Linked DNA regions of Homo sapiens. The protein of the gene in region 1 purifies or fractionates together with the protein of each later gene. This does not show direct contact. Each region holds a gene or a part of one and is shown in the gene's direction. Other genes may lie near its edges. The genes, in order: LRPPRC, SCO1, RNF146, ARFGEF1, FLII, NFKBIB and NAPA.

Evidence for each region.
Region 2: the proteins of LRPPRC (region 1) and SCO1 purify together in Homo sapiens (affinity purification with mass spectrometry, with the first as the bait; one large-scale study listed by BioGRID). This does not show direct contact.
Region 3: the proteins of LRPPRC (region 1) and RNF146 purify together in Homo sapiens (pull-down; one large-scale study listed by IntAct). This does not show direct contact.
Region 4: the proteins of LRPPRC (region 1) and ARFGEF1 fractionate together in Homo sapiens (co-fractionation; one large-scale study listed by BioGRID). This does not show direct contact.
Region 5: the proteins of LRPPRC (region 1) and FLII fractionate together in Homo sapiens (co-fractionation; one large-scale study listed by BioGRID). This does not show direct contact.
Region 6: the proteins of LRPPRC (region 1) and NFKBIB purify together in Homo sapiens (tandem affinity purification; 2 studies listed by BioGRID and IntAct, with this or other methods). This does not show direct contact.
Region 7: the proteins of LRPPRC (region 1) and NAPA fractionate together in Homo sapiens (co-fractionation; one large-scale study listed by BioGRID). This does not show direct contact.

What each region holds. Positions count from the first base shown.
Region 1 is NC_000002.12:43,943,990-43,947,489, reverse strand, and holds part of LRPPRC (leucine-rich PPR motif-containing protein, mitochondrial precursor), read left to right. Parts: intron 1-119; coding exon 120-233; intron 234-1,246; coding exon 1,247-1,377; intron 1,378-2,072; coding exon 2,073-2,158; intron 2,159-3,500. UniProt on the Homo sapiens protein: May play a role in RNA metabolism in both nuclei and mitochondria. In the nucleus binds to HNRPA1-associated poly(A) mRNAs and is part of nmRNP complexes at late stages of mRNA maturation which are possibly associated with nuclear mRNA export.
Region 2 is NC_000017.11:10,680,534-10,684,033, reverse strand, and holds part of SCO1 (protein SCO1 homolog, mitochondrial), read left to right. Parts: intron 1-2,780; coding exon 2,781-2,915; 3' UTR 2,916-3,500. UniProt on the Homo sapiens protein: Copper metallochaperone essential for the maturation of cytochrome c oxidase subunit II (MT-CO2/COX2). Not required for the synthesis of MT-CO2/COX2 but plays a crucial role in stabilizing MT-CO2/COX2 during its subsequent maturation.
Region 3 is NC_000006.12:127,269,864-127,273,363, forward strand, and holds part of RNF146 (E3 ubiquitin-protein ligase RNF146), read left to right. Parts: intron 1-3,500. UniProt on the Homo sapiens protein: E3 ubiquitin-protein ligase that specifically binds poly-ADP-ribosylated (PARsylated) proteins and mediates their ubiquitination and subsequent degradation. May regulate many important biological processes, such as cell survival and DNA damage response.
Region 4 is NC_000008.11:67,263,782-67,267,281, reverse strand, and holds part of ARFGEF1 (brefeldin A-inhibited guanine nucleotide-exchange protein 1), read left to right. Parts: intron 1-51; coding exon 52-191; intron 192-297; coding exon 298-406; intron 407-1,074; coding exon 1,075-1,276; intron 1,277-3,500. UniProt on the Homo sapiens protein: Promotes guanine-nucleotide exchange on ARF1 and ARF3. Promotes the activation of ARF1/ARF3 through replacement of GDP with GTP. Involved in vesicular trafficking.
Region 5 is NC_000017.11:18,252,239-18,255,738, reverse strand, and holds part of FLII (protein flightless-1 homolog), read left to right. Parts: intron 1-475; coding exon 476-556; intron 557-884; coding exon 885-970; intron 971-1,056; coding exon 1,057-1,218; intron 1,219-1,556; coding exon 1,557-1,660; intron 1,661-2,019; coding exon 2,020-2,195; intron 2,196-2,280; coding exon 2,281-2,438; intron 2,439-3,182; coding exon 3,183-3,267; intron 3,268-3,500. UniProt on the Homo sapiens protein: Is a regulator of actin polymerization, required for proper myofibril organization and regulation of the length of sarcomeric thin filaments. It also plays a role in the assembly of cardiomyocyte cell adhesion complexes.
Region 6 is NC_000019.10:38,902,969-38,906,178, forward strand, and holds part of NFKBIB (NF-kappa-B inhibitor beta), read left to right. Parts: intron 1-2,046; coding exon 2,047-2,152; intron 2,153-2,233; coding exon 2,234-2,567; intron 2,568-3,210. UniProt on the Homo sapiens protein: Inhibits NF-kappa-B by complexing with and trapping it in the cytoplasm.
Region 7 is NC_000019.10:47,494,564-47,498,063, reverse strand, and holds part of NAPA (alpha-soluble NSF attachment protein), read left to right. Parts: intron 1-2,467; coding exon 2,468-2,514; intron 2,515-2,919; exon of another isoform or gene 2,920-3,036; intron 3,037-3,500. UniProt on the Homo sapiens protein: Required for vesicular transport between the endoplasmic reticulum and the Golgi apparatus. Together with GNA12 promotes CDH5 localization to plasma membrane.

The sequences.
Region 1 (3,500 bases):
ATAGCATTTATGACATTTAGGAAGGTAGAAAGGAAAGTCAGTTTAAAGGGAAGAGTGACAAAAGGCATACTATATTTCCTTTTTCAGGAAATTTTTCTTTTCTTTTTTCTTTTCTGTAGACTGTGCAACTTACATCATCTGAATTGGAGTCCACACTTGAAACACTAAAAGCTGAAAATCAACCTATAAGAGATGTCCTAAAGCAACTCATATTAGTGCTTTGTTCAGAAGAGGTAACATTTGTTTTAATATTTAAATATTATTAAGGCAAAAAATTCTTGGTAACAATAAGAAAAACCAAATATAATATTTATGATTTTTACAATTGATCGTTATATGTCAGGCTTGTAAAGAATGCAATTAAATGAAAGGTTAACTAATTTCAGCTACACCTTGAATGGCATGTTTTCTGGTTGCTGTAGTTTGTTTACGATAATCTGCAAAGTGAATGATAGTAACAGCTGTGATAGGTTTATCATACATGCCAAATGTCCTTTCAAGCCATGGCTCCGGTCTCTTATATCTAGATTGTCAAGCAACTGATACACGCAGTAGTCATTTGCAAGTCAAATATTACTAGGTTGTTAATGCAGGGATTGAAATTCCATTTTCCTGCTGGAAAAAAGCTCTTTCTGAGATAAAGGGTCCCTTGCCTTTTTTCAGCGGGCATCCAGCTGTACTTTGTGTTCATTTTAGTGTATGTCTGCAATTTGTGGGATATCACTAGACTATTTTTCACTTTCTAGTTCAATATAATTGAGCCATAAACTTGTAGTTTTAGGGAAAAAATATCATGACTAACTTTATGATTATAATCTGCTACTGTTAAATTCTAAAATATTTCTTCATATTACTTGGATACTAAACTAGACTGAGAAACTTTTCAATGATACATATTTCTGCATCCTGAAATTAGACTGTGATTAGGATTTGATTTGGGAATTACTTAATCTGGAAGTCTTTTTTAAATAATACCATACACAAAGCCTAAAACATCAAATTTGGCATAAATAATGGCCTATTTTATATTACAGATAACACATCTTTTAACCCCTACACGTGTAAGACTTGCCCACTTCTTAGAGGTGAATAAAAATATCAAGGGGCAGAGTCAGGTTGTTAACATGAAACCATTTATTTTTAAAGTACTATTAACTTTTTCTAAACTCTGAACAGTAAAGCTAAAAATGTGACATTTTTACCTTCACACTGATTTCTTCTTTTTCACATCTATGCTGTATTTTAGAATATGCAAAAAGCCCTTGAATTGAAAGCAAAATATGAATCCGACATGGTTACTGGTGGCTATGCAGCTTTAATAAATTTATGCTGTCGACATGATAAAGTAGAAGATGCCTTGAACTTGAAAGAAGAATTGTGAGTACCCTGGCACTGAAACAAGTTGTCAACATTTATTCTGCTCTACAGACCTTGATAGATTATCTAGATGGAATATTACTCTCTTATATAATGTCATTTTTAAAAATTCTTTTGTTGTCAGTGTTTTTGAAATTTCGTATTATACGGCTCTTTAATTAATTGTGGCTTATGTTCAGCAAGGTGTCTTTGTTTAAGTATGATAAGACATTCTAGTCCTTAGAACCAAAGGTTTTTTTCCATTGATTATATATCATCACAACAGTGGTGATGGTGGTAACTGTTTTAAGAGGCTTGATAACATTTCCCTTTCAATATTGTAGTGTAAATAAAATTCTATCCATTTCTCAGGTACCTTTGGCTTCCTATCCTGTTAGATTTTTCAAGTAAAAATGTCAAGTATTCGTGATGAAGGTTAGAATCACTTAAAGCCAAAGAGTTTCTTCATAAGTATCCTTTGCAGATGGAGTGATGCAATATATATGTAGTGTTGGGCTTTTACTTCACTAGTCACTTTGAATATAATTTCGTGTGAACTTGTATATGGCTTCAAAAAGAAATCCTAACTGAAGCGTAGAGGCCAACATTAGTTCAGGTCTTCTGATGAGCTTTTGAAAAGTGATTAAATGGATGTTGCTGTTCTTTTAGCAGTTAATTGACTTTTAAAACAATATAAATGTGGCTTTAATTTTTAGTGACCGCTTAGATTCATCTGCTGTCCTTGACACCGGCAAGTATGTAGGCCTTGTAAGAGTATTGGCAAAGCATGGCAAGCTCCAAGGTAAGCCTCAGCACATAAAGGAAATATGTGATGCAAGTATCTTGCCACTGGAATAACATGTGAATTGATATTAATGGATATCATGTCCTGCAAAGTGCTTGAACACTTTGCATAGAAATTTGCATGTGAATCCAACCAGAGCTACATGGACAGTGTAGGCCATTAGTTTTAATGGATTGGCAAGCTTGTCATTTACATTTGCACAGCTCAGTGCTTTTTGCATTTCTGCAGCTAGTTTTTATTAGCATTGCTGTTTGGATTGAGTTTGAAGATCATGACTTATGGCACAATTTGCTTATGTGCCTGCACTAATGGCTTTGTTTTTGCTTAAGAAGGTCTGAAGGCTGAACGTAAAACCTATAAACGTAAAACCTATAAACATAACCTAATATATGCGCCTGAATTTTGCAGTAGTCTTTGCCTTACTTTTTAATAACATTAACAAAATATATACTTTAAAGTTTTTATTTTAATTAAGGTTTTTATTTAATGGTTCATGGAAAAAGCATAGCTGATTACACAGCTGATTTGCATACTCAAATTTTCTCGTTGAGATAATGCTAAGCCTAATAAAATTAATTACACTTGATAATACATTCATACTATTTTCTTGTTTCTTAACTTTCTGATTTGGCTTTATTTTGAAATTTCCTTTTTAGCCTTCCTCTTTTCCTTTGATTTTCAGAAAAGATTGTTTTAATTTTATTATAGGGAAAAATGTATGGAGAAAATCATTTATTAGAACATTGAATGTTTTCCTAGGACGCCTTTCTAACTCTTTCTAAGGATTAGCCTATTTTTTTAAAATCACTTTTTGTAAAGTGGTCAAAACATTTTGTCTGTGTAATAATTAAGAACAACATTATAAAAATGCACTTATTCCATATCCTAAAATGTTTGTTTCTGCCTTCCTAATGAAGCTTAATGAATCTAATGTATTAACATGCAGTCTTTTGGAAAGCTTTCATTGGCTCTGCTTGGCTAATTAGTATCGACATAGCAAACAGGCCCTATCGGTATCAGACCATTAGTCTGGCTGTATATACAGTGTAAACACATCTTTATTATCTGGCCTCCTGACAAGCCATCTGCTGAAGAAACAATGGTGTGATTTAGCAGATGTTAGCTCTGAACGATAAAAGCATCCATTTAGGAGGATCTTACAGCTATAGGGCAGACCATACAGGGTTATGTGGTACAGAGTGGGCACATAGTCCCTATCTATAATTTGTAGTCAAAGTTGCAGGGAAATGATAAAACCATGCTATTGTGGATTTATAATTGTAGTCTCGTTTAGAAATGCAAGTAGTAATTAACTTGAAATCGGCATTATACACTAGAA
Region 2 (3,500 bases), on another chromosome or scaffold:
CAGCTTCTTAGGTTTTTCATTAGTATGACTTCAGTCCCTTGAGGTCACAGATTTTCATCCATAGGATGGTTTGGGAAACTTCTGTTATCATTTAAGGACCTGCAGGAAGTAAGGGGGTACCTTTAAGGTTAATGTTGAGATGTAATGGAATGAAGTTTTCTTAATCCCAAACGACAGCAACAACAGGCAAGCTTCTGGCTTTTGAGTGGACTCTTCAGAGTGATCGAACTGGGTATACCAAATATTTGGAATTCCATAGAAAGCTGGATCTGCACATTATTGTATTATATATATATAATACTATATTATTATATAGATATTAGTTAGAAAATACTTTTGAAAAAAGAATACAAATAGCTTTCAAACCTAAATGTGCAGTTTCATAATAAAAGAAATGTGAATTGTATAATGAGGTAACATTTTTCTCTTGGCTCAGCAGTGGTCAGAAAATCTGAAAATATATTGTCGAAATTGGAAAAGCAGGAAATAAACTGCAGGAGTGAATTTGGAACAGCAGGCACACTCATGCATTGTTGATAGGAATTAAACTCATACACCCTCTTCAGAGGGCAGTTTAACAGTATTTCTCACATTTAAAGTTATATACTTTTTATGCAAGAGATTCTACTTTTTGGACTTTATCCTATAAATATACCCTATGGCATTGTTTTTAAAGAGAAAAAACTGAAAATCCAGTAACCATTTTTTAACTACTGTGTATAATCTAACGTAGAACAATGTCCAATATATTGTTAAATGAGAAAGCAAGTACTGTAGAATATATTGTTACTTGTGTATAAAAAAAATAAGTGGTAGTGGATATATACACATAGTAGATGCAGAGAATTTCTTCGGAAGGATACAGAAGGAACTGATGGCATTGGTTCACTCTAAGGGGAACTGAGGCACTCTGGGTGTGAAGAGGGGGAGGGACATTTTCATTGTATACATTAACTGGATATTCGTTTTCTATGTGCATATATTACCTTTTCAAAAAATAATTCACACTAAAACGTAACTTGCACACTAGAAAAACTGAGTTGCTGCTCTCCATTAGAATTGGAGCTAGAGGCAACGTGGTGATAAAAGTTTGTGGACTTTGAAACTGGACAGATTCTAGGTTTTAAAGTTAGGCCTGGCACTTACCAATTATATAATTTACTCTCTCCAGCCTGTGATATCATTTGAAGAGGAGGAGAATACCTGTTTCATGGCTTAAGATGACATGTGAAAGAATTTGTCAGTTAATGCTAGTGTCCTTTTTCTATACAAGGAAGTACTAGAACTTGGAAGACCTCTGTAGACCTCTGTATTAGAATAAATGTCAATGTGCTCTGTCACAACCCAAAGGAATATTGAGGAGTGACCTCTGACAAGTTCGACAGATACAGATAAAATAATATTTTTGTTGTGTACTACAAGGTAATTTATATTAAGAACACTCAGAAAATAAGTCCCACATACTGTAGTTTGTTTTTTTTAACAGAGAATAGAGAAAAGGAAGAAATAGGGAGAAAGAGTGATGTAAGCTACAGAGTAAGGCTTGAAGAGAGAACTGGAGACTTAATTCTGATTTCTGTATCAAATATGTGGAGAAACGTAGCCCCCCGTCTTGCTCCTGCGGTGAACTATCCCACAGCACTTGGAATCCAGTTGTTGGCGCTCTTTTGGTGTACATTCTTTCCTTATGTGGGTAGGCAAGTGCTCTTTCCATTTGCTATCTTAAGAATGTGTGTATAAAAAATAATACCCTCACAGACATATAGTGCGTGCTGGGGTATGTTTGGGAGGTGTCTCCAGTTTGGTATTTGTAGTCACATTCCTGTCTTTCTTTGTCTTGCCAAATAGCAGTCAAGCCTGCAATAAATTCCAAGGACTCTAAGTGCCAAATCTCACTTAAAATTGGATTTTATGGAAGTGTCTAACTAAAAAATCTGATGACTAATCTAAGTTAAAGTTAGAGCTGGGACCATTTTAGGACTTTGCTGGGAAAATGGATGCTGAGTTTACGATGACTCTCTGGTTAGGGGGGCAGCATTTATGCTCCCGAGGATTTGCTTTCCAGGTGATGGATTGATTTCAGATAGGATTATTCAGTGGAGGAGACAAAAATTTCCTTGGGGAGAAAAATGTTTCTTTTCCTGTTTCTGTTTGAATTACTAATATTAAAACTAAATATTGTTCAAATTTATAGATTATTTAAACTAATGATTAGTTTTCTGATTTCTTCTCATAAAGCGTGGTAAGCAGAATTTTGGCAGTAATGAATGACAACCAGTTCTTTCTAAAACATGAATAAACCCAAGAACTTACTAAAGAAAGCAGTTTTTCACCAACACTTAATTCCATGTGATGTCTGTTTGTAACATGTTTAGGGTCTGAGGAGATATCTTACTCAAAAATGAAGGTATTTTTCAACAAGCATTGCTATTCCACAAACATTGACTGCTTTATGAAAGCCTGCAGCAGCTATTTCTTAGAAGGTGAATTCTTTTCTCAGAGTGTGTGGGTAAATATGTTAAGGATTAAACCAAAAGAATTTCAGGTTCTAGCTGATGTGACAAGCAATAACCAGTGCAGATGTTTAGGACACAAAAGATTTTAGACAATTTTTGTTAGGAATTTGCTATGATAGACTTAAGCCTATTCCATAAATAATAGATGCTGTAAAGGTTATTTAAGCATTAATGTAAAGTTCTCTTATCTTGCAGCATACATTCAGTAAAATAAGCAGCTTATTTTGGTAATCTTTGTCACACTCTCCCCCCTTTTCTCTGCAGGTGGATCACACAATAATAATGTACTTGATTGGACCAGATGGTGAGTTTCTAGATTATTTTGGCCAGAACAAGAGGAAGGGAGAAATAGCTGCTTCAATTGCCACACACATGAGGCCATACAGAAAAAAGAGCTAGCCAAAGCAGTGTTGCTGGATGCAGTATTCTCTTGCTAAGAGGAAGGAAACTGTCTCGCATAGGAGCCTATATAAATATAAACATATATACGTGCACTCTACAGAATGGCCTTCATACCATGAGAACATTTCTGTTTTGGATGGGGATGTTACCCTTGCGTTCAACCAAAATTGATTCTTGGAACTGTAAAGATTACAACCCAAAGTCTCCCAGGAAGCTGTGGGGAGACCAGAGGATCAAGCTGAAGTGAAGCCAGTGAAGAGCCCACCTGTGGAAGGACATGGCGGGGCGAGGCACAGCCAGTGCATTCCTGCCTGCGAACAGGCCCTCCCAGCAGCTTTGCCGCCTCTCCATCGTCTTGGGCCCTTGCTCAAATAGCTGTGGGACTGAATTTCACAGAAAAGAATATAATTTCCATAGTGCTCTTGCTTGCCTCTTCTTGAGTTCTTTGCTCTTCTGAGTTCTTGGTGGCTAATAACAGTCAGATTAGGGTCTCTGCCATTCAGAGTTGATGCTTGAAAACTTTAGTTTTCCTTATTAATGAATATCACTATCAGATTTGACTAATGAAGAGGAAATCTATTG
Region 3 (3,500 bases), on another chromosome or scaffold:
GATTTCATGTAGAACATTTACTGTTTTGTGTATTTTGAATAAATGGCAAAAATCTTATTAAACATTAGCTGTTAATAATTAGAAAAATACAGTAAGTCTTCAAATATTTATAATTGATATTTGTCTTTGTTTTTATATGTATTTATATTGATGTTATATGCTCATCTTTTTCTTTGATTAAAGATAATCGCTTGCTTGAATCTATTACCTGAAAAAAACTCTTGACTTTGATCTTGTGACTGACTTGAAAAGTGGGAGTATGAGTATTTTGAGTTGTTACAAATTATAAATGGTACAATATTACTTCATTTTTAGTTGTATTTATTTTTCACTTATTTGAATGGGTCAAGATTTAAATTCATTGATAATCCCTAAACCCCTTTGTGTATTTTTAAGTTTTACCTGTCACTGTTTTTTTCCTCCAGAATTGTTAGGGGCAAAGTATCTAATTTGGTTTTAGACTTTTTCTTTTTTTTATGTTACCTTCTTCATACATCATCATATTAAGTTTGGTGTAAAATTTACAGGTCATTCATTCCAGTAGGAATTATGTATGTTTGAGTTATTTATGTTTGGCAAATTAATTCTGGCCTGTAGTTGAAATCATACTGTTCTGTTTTACATCCCCCTATTGGTTAAAATAAAAGCATCCCTTCTCCTCCAACTTTAAAAAAACTTTGGTTTCAAATAATGTGGGAGTTTTCTGAGGGCTTCTTCACATGATTGTTATAAGTATTACATGTATGCCCTATTTTGTGCCCAGTTGAAATTATAGTTGACCATTGAACAAAGGTTTGAACCGTGTAGTTCCACTTATACAATACTTTTTTTTTCTGCCCCTGCCACCCCTGAGAGAGCAAAACCAATGTTTCTTTCTCGTCCTCCTGAAAAAGATGAAGGCCTTTATGATGATCCATTTCTACTTAATGAATGTAAACATATTTTTCTTCCTTATGATTTTTTTTTTTTTTGAGATGGAGTCTTGCTCTGTCATTAGGCTGGAGTGCAGTGGTGCGATCTTGGCTCACTGCAACCTCCACCTCCCAGATTCAAGAGATTCTCCTGCCTCAGCCTCCCAATTAGCTGGGACTACAGGTGTGCGCCACCATGCCCAGCTAATTTTTGTATTTTTAGTAGAGACGGGGTTTCACCATGTTGGCCAGGATGGTATTGATCTCTTGACCTCATGATCTTCCTGCCTCAGCTTCCCAAAGTGCTAAGATTACAGGCGTGAGCCACCGCACCTGGCCTCCTTACGATTTTTTAAATAATGTTTTCTTTTTTTTAGTTTATTGCAAGAAAACAATATATAATACAACATACAAAACATATATTAATCCACTGTTTATGTTATCAGTAAAGCTTCCAGGCAATAGTAGACTATTAGTAGTTAAGTTTTTGGAAACTCAAAAGTTTACATGGAATTTTGACTGCGCAGGGTGTAGACATTCTTAACTCCTCACATTGTTCAAGGGTCAACTGTATAAATTCTGAGAGTTAATAGGTGATGGGTCAGTTTGGCAGAATTGGGGCTACCTAAACCCATTAACTTTGATTATAACAGAATATGCAGTTTTCTTTTTTAATGTGTCTTCGGCAAAAGTCTAGGTAAATTAACATTGAATTCATTGTCTCTATTAAACAATTCCTGTAGTGACTTGTCAGTTTTGTATTTAACAAGATTAATATGCAAGACATTCTAGACCAGCATTGCCCAGTAAAGTAGCCACTAGCCACATGGAGTTATTGAGCACTTGACATGTATCCAGTCTGAATTAAGTTGTGCTGTAAGTGTAAAATACACACTGGATTTCAAAGAAGTATGCATACGCTTACCCAAGAACATAAAATATTACATTAACAATTTATATTGAAACATACTGAAGCAGTAATGTAGAAACGTTGGATTAAATAAAATATATTATTGAAATTAATTTTACCTGTTTCTTTCTATTATTATTTTTGTAGAAATGGGGGTCTCACCATCTTGCCCAGGCTGGTCTATAACTCCTAGGCTCAAGCCATCCTCCTGTGTCACTACCCACAAAGTGCTAGGATTACAGATGTGAGGCACCATGCCCTGCCTCTTTTTATTATTAATGTGGCTAATAGAAAATTTGAAATTGCATACGTGGCTTGCATCATATTTCTATTAGATAATACGTGACCTTTTCTGTGAGAGACAATACATTGTAGAAAGACATTTTTAAAGGTAAATTTGAATTTGAATCGCATCTCCCAATATTGATGGCTTTGACTTTGGGTAAGTCATTTAACTTCCTGAGCTTAGGCTTCCTCATTTGTGAAATAGGTATAGTCATATTTCACAGGGTTGTTTTGAGGATTCAGTGACATATGGATTTGGTAGTGTTTCACTAACTAATATATGTGAATCACTTGGAGATCTGGTTCTGTAGGTCTAGGGTGGCACTTAGGATTTTCATTTGTGAAGAGCTCCCAGGTAGTGCTGATAGTACTAGTTGGGAATCCCAGTTTGTTTGTATAGCTAGGATCTAGAGCATTATGTTAGTTTTAATTCATTTTCCTTCCCCAGCATTTATCCAGTTAGTCTGCACTTTGAAAAAATTATTCATGAGGATATAGAAATTGAAAAAGTCACCAAAGCATGCAAGATTTACTAAAATTATATGAACTGTGGACTCTTAGGGCTGCTGTAGGATTCCTGTTTACATCTGTTAAGTTTTTTGTCTGCTTTTATCTGGAGTCACTTTTATTGGTTGCATAAGATGGCTAAATCTCAGCCAAGAAGAACCTGGTTGTGTTGTTCTACGCAAATGTATTTTTGAAAGATAATGCATAATGAGAGGTGAAATAAAAGAATGCTCAAAGACAATAAGAGGGCAGTACAATTGACCCTTGAGCAACATGGGGTTAAGGGTGCCAACCCCTTGCACAATTGAAAATCTGAGTATAAGTTTTGACTTCCCCAAAATTTAACTACTAATAGCCTACTGTAAAGTCAGTTAACACGTTGTTTGTTATATGCATTACATACTATATTCTTACAATAAGCTAAAGGAAAATAAATTCCTAAGGAAGAAAAAATACATTTACAGTACTGCATTTACCGATACTGTGTTTATGTTACCTGTTTATAAGGTGTCTGTCTGAAATGATGGGTAACTGCAGCTGCAGACCCATCTAGGGTGTGTACCAGGTAATTTAACTTCTTGTAATGGCATGACTTCTTGGCTTCTTGGGAGCACTTCTAGCATCACTAGTGGCACTTCACATGGGTCCCATGGTGTTATTCAAGGTTTATGGTATTGTACTAAACATGATGAAAAATACACAAGAACAAGAGATTACATTTTACTCCAATACATGCAGAGATGATTAGTGTCCACAGCATTTTAAGTGGAAATTCATAATAGCAACAGGAAATTATTACAGTATGTACTACAATTAATTTTATACAGCTATGATTCATACTGCATCTTTACATTTGTTTAAATTTCTTGTACCACCTCAAGTGGCAC
Region 4 (3,500 bases), on another chromosome or scaffold:
GTACTCATATCCTAGATGTACTTTGTTGAAATTAATGTTATATTGTTACAGATGCTCAGAGTGTAGTGGATATTTATGTAAACTATGACTGTGACTTAAATGCAGCCAATATATTTGAAAGACTAGTAAATGATCTATCAAAAATTGCTCAAGGAAGGGGCAGTCAAGAACTTGGTATGAGTAATGTTCAGGTAAGAACTATAAAAACATTTTCAAATTTAAACTTTACCAGGAAAGAGTCATGTGTTTTCCTTAAAAGACCTTTAAAAAAAATTTTGTTTTTGAATTACTTTGTAGGAATTGAGCCTGAGGAAAAAAGGTTTAGAATGCTTAGTGTCGATTTTGAAGTGTATGGTTGAATGGAGTAAGGATCAGTATGTGAATCCCAACTCCCAGACAACTCTTGGTAAGGTGATATTTTGAGCTGTAATTCTTTGTCATTTTAAGTGAATAATACTTTGGAGGATAGTTGCAGCTGCTGTTAAACCAATTTCATGACATATTTATTCATTTAACTGATGAGGAAACATTCTCTGTGAGTTAAATGTCTAGCTTTAAAATTGTGAGATTTTTAACTTAGTTATCCAAACTATTTTTTTCTAAATCTTCTTAGAAATATTTTGATTATGTAAAATGAAGCATATTTATGCAACTTTCTTGTATTATAATTATAGAGGAAACATATAAAAGGCAGTATGTTTTAAGAAGGTTGAATTGTTCATCTGTGTTTGATGTTTACCCTCACTCAGAGAAAAACTCATAGCTGCAGGGCTACACTGGTATTATCGAAAACAATTCCTCATGAGGAGTGAGCTGAGAGCAGAAATCCAGTGGATACTCAGCACTGCAACTGCAAAAAGAACTCCTCCTAATGGTGCAGACTATACACGTACAAATTACAGTGTGTTTTAATATCAAAGTATGTTGTTTACTATGTTACCTAATAGTTATTTTGTATTAAATAGATATCTAAGCAACATTGAAACGCCTTGCCTTATTCAAGAATTTGTTTGCCCTTACACTTTTTTTTTTCTTTGATAGAATAATGTACTCTATCAATTTTTCTTCTTTCAGGTCAGGAAAAACCCTCAGAGCAAGAGATGAGTGAAATCAAACACCCTGAGACAATAAACAGATACGGAAGTTTAAATTCCCTGGAGTCAACATCATCATCAGGAATAGGCAGCTACAGTACACAGATGTCTGGCACTGATAATCCAGAACAATTTGAGGTCCTAAAGCAACAAAAAGAAATAATAGAACAAGGGATAGATTTGTAAGTGTCATAGCTTAAGGAGAAATGTTATTGAATATCTCTCTGCCAGTATAGTGCCACCCCTGCCGTGGGTTTATCACCTTATAATGAGTAAAATGGAGGATAGTTCTCATGGATCTAATTCACGAGGCTCCTATTCAGCCCCCCTTGTTCATTGCAGTCTAGCCCAACTAGATTCCTGTAATGCCCAACCACTCTTGTCATATAAATTAATTTGTCACCATATTATAAGTGCTGTTGATGGGTATCATCTGTGCAATTTTGCACTGTTTAGCTCATGACATCCCCCCATTATATTTTCTAATCATGTGACAACTCAAAACATTTAAAATATGAAACTTCTAATAGCTATCAGTACTCCTTTATAGGTCTTACATTTTTTCCAGCTGGCTTACAAATGTACTATTCTTGTTATTGATTTCATTTTTATATGTTGATGAGGTGATCACCTCTCTTCCAGCCTGGCTAGTGTACCGGATCCTAATCTTGTGAAGTCAGTTTTCCCACTAAGCTTTGTGATACCTGCCTGCTCCTGGACTATTTCCTTTGTGAATGTCACCATGCTGCCTTCCTTTCTCTTGTTGCCCATCTCTTTTTTTCAAAGAGATGCCATAAGGAAAAATGAAATTGTTTGCCGTCTCCATGAATCTAACTATTATAAACTTAAAAATTCCCCTGTGTGCTTACTTGGTTTGCTACTTCTGTAAAGCATTTCTTCCTGATACTTAAGCAGTGCCTTTTAGTGAATGTTCAGGTGTCTTTTTTCTCCAGTGTTAATATGAAAAACAGTTCAACAAAAATGTACACATATTCTATTTTAAAATTACAAAATCTTACCAAATTGCCTCAGGAAATAGCTGTCACTACTGCATTAATTCTAATTGTTCAGTCAATATTTATTAAAGTCTCATCTTTCCAGATATTATGCAAGATCCTGGGGAAACTAGATACATGGAAAAGCCCTTCCTTCTGAGAGGCTCTTGGTCTAGTGTGTGTAAACAAATATGCATATTGAAATTCTGCTGGTCACCCAGTAAACACATATTTGGTACTTGGGACTATTGCCAAGCACCATGAAGGCATTGGTCCTTGTATTCAAGATTGCATTCTAAACATGAGCAATTTTTAAAAATAGTACTGTGTAAATGTTTATAAAAGAGTGTCGTACAGAGTAAGTACTGCCAAGGTACTTATTTTGAAGTACTTGAGAAATGAGAAGGAGTAGTCAGAGGGCTTCGAAGTGGAAGTCTCCCAGTCCTTCTCTCAGCAGCTAGACTTGCTTTCTACTTAATACAGCCATTGATGAGAATGCTTTCATGGAACTGTATTCCTAGTATACTTGTCTACAACTGTTTCATGACACCAGTCTATCCTGTTTCTCTCCTACCTTTTTGACTATGCCGTCTCAGTCTTGTGGGCTGTTTTTTCTTTCTTCCTGCGTGCATCTTAGCATTGCCAGCGTTCTGTTCCTCAGCCCTTTTCCAACATCAGCCCCTTAGTTCTCCTACCCAAAACAAAAGACAAATAGAGAAGCCTGTTATTTTTGTATTTCTTATTTATGGTAGTAACCCCAGCATGCTACTAAATTTATAAGCTAAAATCCTGGGAGTTAGCTTAGATTTTCCCCTCAAAGGATTAGATTCTCGAATCTAATCTGTCACTAAGACTTGTTGATTATACTTCCTAATATCCCTGCAATCTGTACTCTTTTCTCGATCTCCCACCACTATTCTTGCAAATCAAATCATGATTATTTATTTCCTCAACTAGTATAATCTTTCAATTGGCTTACCTTTTTCTTTGGTTTTGTTCATTCTTCAGTCTTTTCCCATGCTTAACTAGAGTAACCTTTCTTGAATGAAAGTCTATTTTTTCCCTCTCTTAGAGAATAAAACCAAAGCTGCTTTGAAGGTATGATAATACCTTCATGATTTGGATCTGCTGGACTCTAAGCTTCATTTCCTGCCACTTTTCTGTCTCACCTCACTTTCCAACAATGCAGAACTATTTATTATATAATACTGTCTTGTGCTTTTGTGTTTTAGTATGGCTTCTTCCTCTCTTGCATGTTTTTTCTTATTGTTTATAAAAGATATAATTGTTCTTCAAAATAGTTCCAGAGTCACCTTTCCCAGGAAATATATTATGACCATCTAAGTTAGTTACTTCTACTGTGTTATTTTCTTACCTTGTGAATACATCTATTTGTCACAGTTTTAGTATT
Region 5 (3,500 bases), on another chromosome or scaffold:
ACACCATTCTCTGGCCCTGTTCCCTCATGCTCAAGCTTTCTGCATGTCTGTAAGGTATGAGGAGGTGTCAGTCTTAAGTTAGGGAGAGAAAGCAGACTTCCTCTCCATCCAGATTCTGATTTCTCTGTGGTCCACTTCTCTCCCTCTGTTCTGAAAACCCTGACTCAGACCTTACCCCTATCTCACCTTCTGGAATTAAGAAGAAGAGAAATGGTTTGAACAGAAAAGGTTCCCTGAGGGCCCTGTGCTGGGGCTCCGGGGCACATTTGAGCTGGGCTTTGAGGCATGAATAGGAGCTCACTGGGAGGCTAGGAAGAGCGCTCCAGGAGAGGGAGCTATTTGATCAAAGGCCAGAGGTGAGAGAGTCCTCAGGCCTGGCCTCTGGTGAGCTGCCTGAGGAGGTGTCCCTCTCTAGACTCTGTTCCTTCCTGAGAGTGGAAGCCAGGAATTATAGACTCTTATGGTTTATTCCCAGGCCATCGTGGCCCGAGCCAACAGTCTGAAGAATTCCGGAGTCCCCGATGACATCTTCAAGCTAGATGATCTCTCAGTCCTGGTCAGTGGCTACCCACTCACCTGGCCCCTGTGCTAGCCGGACCATTCAATCCCCACTCACTATAAAAGTCCCTGGGGCCATTGTTATCCCATTTTGCAGATGGGAAAACTGAGTCTTGGAGTGGATAATACCTTGCCTGAGGTCACTTTTGGAGTCAGATCCCTAACACAGGCACTCTTCCTCCCAAGTCCCTGGCTGTCTCCCTTTGGCCCTGAAGCCCCCTCATCTACCCCCACACCCAACTCAGTGCCCTGCCTGATCCCCAAGCTTGGCAGACGCCTGGTGGGGAGGAGACTCCCCTGACCTGGGTCTTGCCCCTTCTACCCAGGACTTGAGCCACAACCAGCTGACAGAGTGCCCGCGGGAGCTGGAGAACGCCAAGAACATGCTGGTGCTGAACCTCAGCCACAACAGGTGCCAGGCCAGTGGGGGGCAGGGGGCAGGTGGGCCCTGTGGGGTGGCTGGTGCTGACTCAGGTGGCTCCTGCTCCCCACCCGTAGCATCGACACCATCCCCAACCAGCTCTTCATCAACCTCACTGACCTACTATACCTGGACCTCAGCGAGAACCGCCTGGAGAGCCTGCCCCCGCAGATGCGCCGCCTGGTGCACCTGCAGACGCTCGTGCTCAATGGAAACCCCCTGCTGCATGCACAGCTCCGGTGGGCGCCCCCTCGGACCGCACTCCTGCAGAAGCCACCCTGAGGAGTCTGGCCGGGCCCCTTCACTTCCCAGGGCCCTAACCCTTCTCCCTTAGGCCCAGCCATCCCTCCGTGCAGGCAGCACCCCTCAGTGTACAACCTCCTAAGTATCATGTCCACCTCTCAGTCCTGTCTTCCCGCTTACACACCCCGCAACCACCCTTGGGCTTGTCCCTTCAACCAGATGTGACCTCACACCTACCCTCTGGGCCCTGTGCTTTTGGTCCTGCCCTGCCAAGCCCCACCCTTAACACTCCCTAGGTGGGCCCTGGCCCTGACCACTCACGTCACCCTGGCAGGCAGCTCCCAGCGATGACGGCCCTGCAGACCCTGCACCTGCGGAGCACCCAGCGCACCCAGAGCAACCTGCCCACCAGCCTGGAGGGTCTGAGCAACCTCGCAGGTCAGGCAGCCCCAGGAGCCCCTCTGAGCTCGGGCCCCCTCTGGGCCCTCTTGCTTCCTTGGGTGGAAGGGGTTGAACCCTGCTCTTCGGACCAATACCCAGAGGGAAAAGGCTGGAGTTATGTTACAGTGACTTTTGCGATTATGATGATGCCTTAACACTGACTTTATGCCTAGAAAACTCCCCCGCAACCCCCATGTGAGGGAGTTTGTCCAAATGGAGAAACTTGGGCGCACAGCAGTTGTCACTTGCCTAAGCCACACAGCTCAGAGGTGGCAGAGCTGGGGTTCACACTAGGGCTGGCTGCCCTGGCACCTGGTGTATGGGCCCCAGCTGATGCACCCCACCCTGCACCCCAGACGTGGATCTGTCCTGCAATGACCTGACACGGGTGCCCGAGTGTCTGTACACCCTCCCCAGCCTGCGCCGCCTCAACCTCAGCAGCAACCAGATCACGGAGCTGTCCCTGTGCATAGACCAGTGGGTGCACGTGGAAACTCTGAACCTGTCCCGAAATCAGCTCACCTCACTGCCCGTGCGTCTGAGGCCCTCAGTAGGGGGATGGGAGGAAGGCCGTGAGCCTGGCCCTGACCTCCCACCCCTGCCCGTTCCCCCTCCAGTCAGCCATTTGCAAGCTGAGCAAGCTGAAGAAGCTGTACCTGAATTCCAACAAGCTGGACTTTGACGGGCTGCCCTCAGGCATTGGCAAGCTCACCAACCTGGAAGAGTTCATGGCTGCCAACAACAACCTGGAGCTGGTCCCTGAAAGTCTCTGCAGGTGCTGGGCAGGGCTGGGGCTAGCAGAGGCACTTGCAGCACAGAGAACCCCGGGATCGTAGTCAGAGCCCACCTTGTGGTCTGTGCAAGTCAGACAAAATGAAGATGGGTTAATTCACCTTTTCTTTTCTTTTCTTTTCTTTTTTGTTTTTGAGACAGAGTCTCGCTCTGTCGCCTGGGCTGGAATGTAGTGGTGCAATCTCGGCTGACTGCAGCCTCTGTCTCCCAGGTTCAAGCGAATCTCCTGCCTCAGCCTCCTGAGTAGCTGGGATTATAGGCGTGCGCTACCACGCCCGGCTCTTTTTGTATTTTTAGTAGAGATGGGGTCTCACCATGTTGGCCAGGCTGGTCTTGAATGCCTGTCCTCAAATGATCAGCCTCCCAAAGTGCTGGGATTACAGGTGTGAGCCACCACGCCCGGCCCAGTTAACTCACCTTTGTGGATGAAGACCACAGTCCCATGCCAGCCATTCCCAACTTGAGCCCCTGAGAGCACCCTTCGGGGGGCACTGTTAGGGACAAGGCCACATGACGTGGGAACGCAGTGTTGCTTCTCTCCCCTTCTGGAGATCACAGTGCCCGTAACATGGTCTCTTGGCTCTGAGAAGTCCTTCAGGCAGAGAATGGAGACCCCCGCCAGTTCCTCTGACCCTACCTGCCTCCCCTCCCCAGGACTAGGGGTTTTCTTGCCCACTTCCCCTTGTCTGTCACCTGCCTGAGGCCCTGGCTGGCCCTGTCTTCACAGGTGCCCAAAGCTGAGGAAACTTGTCCTGAACAAGAACCACCTGGTGACCCTCCCAGAAGCCATCCATTTCCTGACGGAGATCGAGGTCAGGCATGCTGGGTTTGAGAGGGCTCAAGAGAGACAAGCAAGGGGTGTGCCCTGGAGCAAGGGGGACCCAGCAGAGGCCTCCTGAGGGAGGTGGCCAGTGCCAGGGTGCCCGTGGGGAGAAGGTGGGCCCCACCTCCCTGCATCCAGAGTACATTCCACAGTCTCATTTAAGCCCCCAGCCAGCCCCAGAGGTGGGTGGGAGGAGAACCCAGTTCCCTGACCTCTCAGCCC
Region 6 (3,210 bases), on another chromosome or scaffold:
AGAGGCAGGAGAATCGCTTGAACCCGGGAGGCGGAGGTTGCAGTGAGCTGAGATCACGCCACTGCACTCCAGCCTGGGCAGCAGAACGAGACTCCATCTCAAAAAAACAAAACAAACAAACAAAAAAAGAAAAAGAAAAACAAAACCAAAAAGAGAAACCATATGACCTACAAAGACTAAAATAGTTATCTGGCTCCTTACAGAAAAAGTTTGCTGACTCCTGCTGTAGGGTTGATAGTTTACAACTTTAGGTTATCATGGGCTACCTTAAAGTGATATTATGCCATTTCACATAGAGTAAAAGAAATTTATTTTATTTTATTATTATTATTTGAGACGGAGTCTCACTCTGTTGCCCAGGCTGGAGTGCAGTGGCACGATCTCAGCTCACTGCAACCTCCATTTCTCAGGTTCAAATGATTGTCCTGCCTCAGCCTCCTGTGTAGGTGGGATTACAGGCGCATGCCACCATGCCTGGCTAAATTTTTTTTGTATTTTTTGTAGAGACAGGGTCTCATCGTGTTGGCCAGGTTGGTCTCAAACTCCTGACCTCAAGTGATCTGCCCGCCTTGGCCTCCCAAAGTGCCAGGATTACAGGTGTGGGCCACCGTGCCCAGCATAATGAACTGTTTTAATATTCTTGTTTGCAAATTCTAACATCTCTGTCATTTCTGGGTCAGTTTCAATTCACTGATGGTTCCTATTATGGATCATGTTTTCCTGCTTCTTTACATGCCTGATAATCTTTGGTTAGGTGCCAGACATTGTGAATTTTGCCTTGTTAGTCTGGAGAATTCTGTATTCCTATAAATATTCTTGAGGCCGGGCGCCGTGGCTCACACCTGTAATCCCAGCACTTTGGGAGGCCAAGGCGGGTGGATCACGAGGTCAGGAGTTCAAGATCAGCCTGGCCAACATGGTGAAACCCTGTCTGTACTAAAAACTGCAAAAATTAGCCAGGTGTGGTGGCACGCACCTGTGGTTCCGGCTACTCGGGAGGCTGAGGCAGAAGAATCGCTTGAACCCAGGAGGTGGAGGTTGCAGTGAGCCACGATCGTGTCACTGCGCTCCAGCCTGGGCGACAGGGCAAGACTCTCTCTCAAAAAATAAAAATTAAAATAAATAAATAAATAAATAAATAAATAAATATTCTTGAATATTATTCTGGGATGGAGTTAAATTACTCGGAAGTAGTTTGAGTCTTTCCAGTTTTGCTTTTATGATTTGTTAGGTGGGTGTTGAGCAGTGCCCCATCTACAGTTAATTATTCCCCACTATTGAGGCAAGACCTTCCTGAGTATCCCACCCGATAGCCTGTGATGATGTTTTTCCAGCCTGGCTGGTGGGAACACTCACTATTCCTGGCCCTGTGTGAGTAACGAGCACTTTTCTGAAATCCTTTTGGATGGTTTTCCCATCCCCACAGACTCACAGGCATGGCTGATCCGTATTCTCCGGAATACACAAGAGAACCTCCTGCAGTTCCCCAGCAATCTCTCCTTTGGCAACTCTGTTTTGTACTCTGTCCTGTGACTCTAGCCACGCTGGCCTCCACAGACTCTTCCTCCATATCCATCTCCTGACCTCAGACAACCTGATGCGCTCTGCTTGGATTCCCCTCTCTGCACCGTGGCTTTGAAACTCTCTCAAGACAATAAGCTGTGGCAGTCAAGTGTGGGGCCCACCTCGTGTTTCCTGTCTTTCAGGGGTCACTGTGATTCATTGCACGATGTCCAGTGTCTTCAACACTGTTGCTTCATATACCGTATTTCGTCTGACTCTTGTTTGTTTGTTTGTTTGTTTCACGTGGGAGTGAATTCTGGTCCATGTTACTTCATTTTGGGCAGAAGTGGAAATCCCACTGAATAAACATTGATTCCACGAATTTGCTGATGAAACTCTGACCTCTGACCTCCCAGATAGCTGACAGGGGGTTCCAGAACTGTGGTCACAAGGCCTAGCATACAGTAGGCGCCCCATGTTTGTTCAATGAAGGAATGCAAGAGGACTTGAACTTTGCCCTCTCACCCCGGTCTTTGTCCCCAGGGCACTGCACTTGGCTGTGATTCATCAGCATGAACCCTTCCTGGATTTTCTTCTAGGCTTCTCGGCCGGCACTGAGTACATGGACCTGCAGAATGACCTAGGCCAGGTGAGCCACGAGGGATGGTGTAGGGCTTGGGGTCCAGGGTTCCCAGTGTGACTCCCTACCGCCTGTCCTCTGCTTCTGCAGACAGCCCTGCACCTGGCAGCCATCCTGGGGGAGACATCCACGGTGGAGAAGCTGTACGCAGCAGGCGCCGGGCTGTGTGTGGCGGAGCGTAGGGGCCACACGGCGCTGCACCTGGCCTGCCGTGTGGGGGCACACGCCTGTGCCCGTGCCCTGCTTCAGCCCCGCCCCCGGCGCCCCAGGGAAGCCCCCGACACCTACCTCGCTCAGGGCCCTGACCGTACTCCCGACACCAACCATACCCCTGTCGCCTTGTACCCCGATTCCGACTTGGAGAAGGAAGAAGAGGAGAGTGAGGAGGACTGGAAGCTGCAGCTGGAGGCTGAAAACTACGAGGGTGAGGGTCGTCACCAGGGAAGGACTCAGCTCCTGGGCTAGGCGAGAGCACCTGGCCCTGGGCTCAGCTTCCCTGATTTGAGACTGAGCTCCTTGGGAAATCATGCCTAGGCTTCAGGAGCCCACACATCGGGACCAGGGACCTCCACTCAGGGCCCAGATGATTGAGAATTGGATATGTAGGACCCAGGACCCCCACCTGGAGGCCCCAGGTCACTTGGGATGCAGACCTGTCACCCACAGACCCAGAGCTGCCAGGATCCAGTTGTCGGGCCCCCGGGCTCCCCACCTGCAGAGTGTATTGCAGACCCCTACCCTACCCAGGACCGGGGAATGCAGAGCTCAGGCCCTCTGTGAAACTCTGGCACCCCAGGCTCCCAGCAATGGGCAGCAGGGTTCAGAGACAGCCCTCCTCAGCCTCATGGGAAGAAGGGCTCATCTGCCCACAGCCCTGACATCCAAGTTTCTGCTCCCCTGCCTATAAGCCCAGCCACCTGAGACCAGACCCCTCCTCAGATGGACTGACGTCATTCAGGACCCAGTGTTCAGGGCCTGCCTCTCGCCCCCAGGTCACAGGCTTTTCAGCTACTTGGTACCTTTTTTTTTTTTTTTTTTTTTTTTGAGACAGTCTCACTCTGTTGCCA
Region 7 (3,500 bases), on another chromosome or scaffold:
TGCCACCTTGGTGGCTCTGGGTGGGGAAGGGTGATGCTCATATGTGTTATTGGTTCCTCAGTTACCCAACCATGGCTGCTGCTCAGGGCAGACTCGGGCCAGCGAGGCCTCTTCCCAGGCCTGCCTGATAGTTGGGGGTGGGGGCAGTGTGTGTACCTGGGGCAGAGAAGCGACCTGGCCCCTGCTTGTCCCCCACTTCCTCCCCAGCTGCCATTTACTGGGTTTCTACTGTGTACCAGATGCTTGGCATCTTTTAACCCATTTGATTTCTTTGTGCATTCTGTGATTTGCCCCCATTTTACTAAGGAGGAGATGACCAAGTGTAACCAGGAAGGGCTTCAGAGACGCAGAAGTCAGGTTGGGCGTCGCTGGTAGGAGTGACTGCGGGGATGGGCGGTGGCCTGGGCCATAGCTCCCCAACTTGGGCTGTATTGCTCTGAGCCCCTTTCCAGCCCTCTGTGGGTGGGTACAGGAGGGGCCAGGCCACAGAACTGGGTGTTGCTCTGCCTGTCCGAGTGCACAAGGCCTGGTGACCTGAGATAAGAGTAGCAGTCATGAGTGTGTCAGAAGCTCGTCCAGGAGCCAGCTGTCCCAGGTGTCTGCTGGTGGCCCGCCGCTTTCCAGACATGGAGGGGACTTAACCCCGTGAGTCCATGTTGCTGCCTGGGGGGTAAGCTGTCTCCCTGCTGCTACTGCAAGGACTGTGCCATGCTGACGGCGGGTGCTCCAGAGCCAGTGCCAGCAGGCCCAGGTGGCAGCTGCAGATCTCACTGCTCACTGCGGAGCAGCAGCCTTTGCCGCCTCAGCCCACAGGGTGCCAGGTTGGTGTCCTGGGTGTTCCGGCCAGGAGAGTGAACCAGTGAGCAGCCCGGGGCCTCCATGTGGAGACTGCAGCCAGGTGGGGCGGGGCAAGGCGGGCCTCTCACCTCACTCCAGCTGCTGCTCTCCTCTGCAGCGTGGCCCGGCTTAGCCGTTGCTTCTGGGTCCGCCGATTACAGGATGTATGTGTCTTCAAACTGCCGGATTTAGGTTGTGTTCTCTCCCCTTCCTCCTCATCTGCCCCCTTTTTGCCACCGTTTCCACTGTCTGCTGCCACAGTCTCGGTCTGTCAGCCCTAGAACCTGGACTGAGTGCTGTACCTTCTCTCAGTCCCTTTTAGATCCCCAGAGGTCTTTCTGAATTGGACAAAACCTACAGACCCCACTCCCCAGAGGAGTGCTTATGGACCCCACTGTTTACATGTCAGAAGGAGGGGTTGGACTCCCTGAAAGCCCAGCCACAGACCTGAGACAAAGAGCCTCTGTCCAGATGCCTCCCCACGGAGGGAGTTTGGAGTCCCATCCAGACCGTGAGCCCCTTGAGAGGAGCCCAGCCCCGGCGCTTCTTGGTAGCACCCTCTTCTCAGGCGAACATGGCCTGGGTGACCATGGAGACCCCCACGGTGACCAGGAACTTTCAGATGCCCAGGCTGAAGCTCAGAGCCCATGCCCTGTGGCCTGTCCAAGCTCCCTGCCTTTCCCTCTCCCCAACCCAGGCCTCCCTCCCCACAACACCCCTGTCCTCCTGAGATGTGCTAAAATGGTGTTCTTAAAAAATACCCCCTGAGAGCTCATTTCTGTCTGCTAGAAAATGCCTCCCACTCATGCTTTTCTCTCTCCTCCAAATAACTTGTCAAAAAAAAGCCTTTCCCAAATTTAAAATCTTGCAAGAGATAGTACAACAAAGGTAGCCCAGTTCTTCCTCAGTGCCATCCTGGTGTGTTCAGGTTTTTTGGCAAAACCTTTGAGGAGCTGGTGGGTGGCAGGACTAGGTTAAAGGGACTGAGCAGAGGGCTCCCGACTGCTGAGCTACGAGGAAGAGGGGGCAGTGGAGAGCACACTGAGGGCTCAGTGTTGATGACATCCAGCCTCCTCGTGCCAGAGGTCCAGGTCCTCCTGGTGCAGGAGCAGAAGCTGCTCAGGATCCTGCAGAGATGGTGGCAGAGCCCAGGTAGAACCTGGCACCCTGTTGCCTCCAAGACCACCTCAGATGCTGGTTTGGCCGCCTCCCATGCCTCCTTCCCCTTTGCCAGCAGCTCAGTCCTTCAAGAGCAGGGCCTTGGCAGGTCTGTCTTAAAACACCGTGGGAGTCTGGCCATCATCCTGGCCTAGCACTGCTGTGCCCTGTCCCTGGGGTTGTGGGAAGCTGGTAGCATCCTGGCAGCCCGAGGAGAGAAGGGCTCCCCCAGAAGCATGTGCCCAGCAAGTCACAGTCTGCAGAGTCAGCCCTCTCACCAGATTTCCTGGGGCTCAGGGATTCCGTCCCCTTCTTCCCAGCCCCTTGAGAGTGTGTGGCAGCGCTGGCAGCTCTGAGCGCCTATTGATCTCTCTGCTGGCAGCCAGGTGCGCCTGCGTCCGCCTCCTCTCCTCAGCTTCTGCTGAAACGACTTCACTTTCTCATGTCTCCTCCCACCTCCCTTTCTCTCCAGAGGCCATTAACTGTTTGATGCGAGCAATCGAGATCTACACAGACATGGTAAGGGCTGCTTGCTTGTCCTGACACCCCCGGGTCCCACTGCATTGCCCCAGCCTTGCGTCCCCTCTTTCAGCACCCCCAGCACTGTTCTTATTCTGCGGCCAAACCACTTGGGGAGGGGGAAGTGGGAGCTGGGGGGATTAGGTCACCTGAGCTGGCCTGGGCTGGCTGGGTCTTCACCCAGCTCCCCACCAGCCTGACGGCCCCCTCACTCCACAGGCAGTCATGGTTTTCATTCATAGAACTTAGGTTATTGAGCTGGGCAGGGTGGCTCATGCCTGTAATCCTGGCATGTTGGGAGGCTGAGGTGGGAGGATCTTTTGGGCACAGGAGTTCGAGACCAGCCTGGGCAACATAGCAAGACCTCCTCTCTACAACAAATTAGCCTGGTGTAGTGGCATGCACCTGGGGTCCTAGTTCTTGGGAGGTTGAGGCAGGAAAATCGCTTGAGTCCAGGAAGTTGAGGCTGCAGTGAGCTGTGATCACACCACTGCACTCCAGCGTAGGCGACAAAACAAGACCCTGTCTCAAAACAAAAAAAGAAATTAGGTTACTGGAGAGTGTGTGTCCGGCACTTCCCCTTGCCCAGCCTTCCCGCAAGTGTCACATTTGATAAGCATCTTGCAGCAGGCCACAGGGATAGGCAGAGCCCACAGGAGGCTCAGCACCTGCCCTGCCCCCAGGGCGCGTTGCCAACGACAGATGCAGACCAGATGGGCAGCTGCCAACTGGAGCCAGAGTGAAGGGTCCCACCCAGGCCGGGGCTCCTGTCAGTGCTTTCTCTCTCTCTCTTTTTTTTTTTTTTTTTTTTTTTGAGACAGAGTTTCTCTCTCATCTAGGCTGGAGTTCAGTGGCGTGATCTCCACTCACTGCAACCTCTGCCTCCCAGGTTCAAGCGATTCTCGTGCCCTAGCCTCTCGAGTAGCTGGGATTACAGGCGTGTGCTACCATGCCTGGCTAATTTTTGTATTTTCAGTAGAGATGTG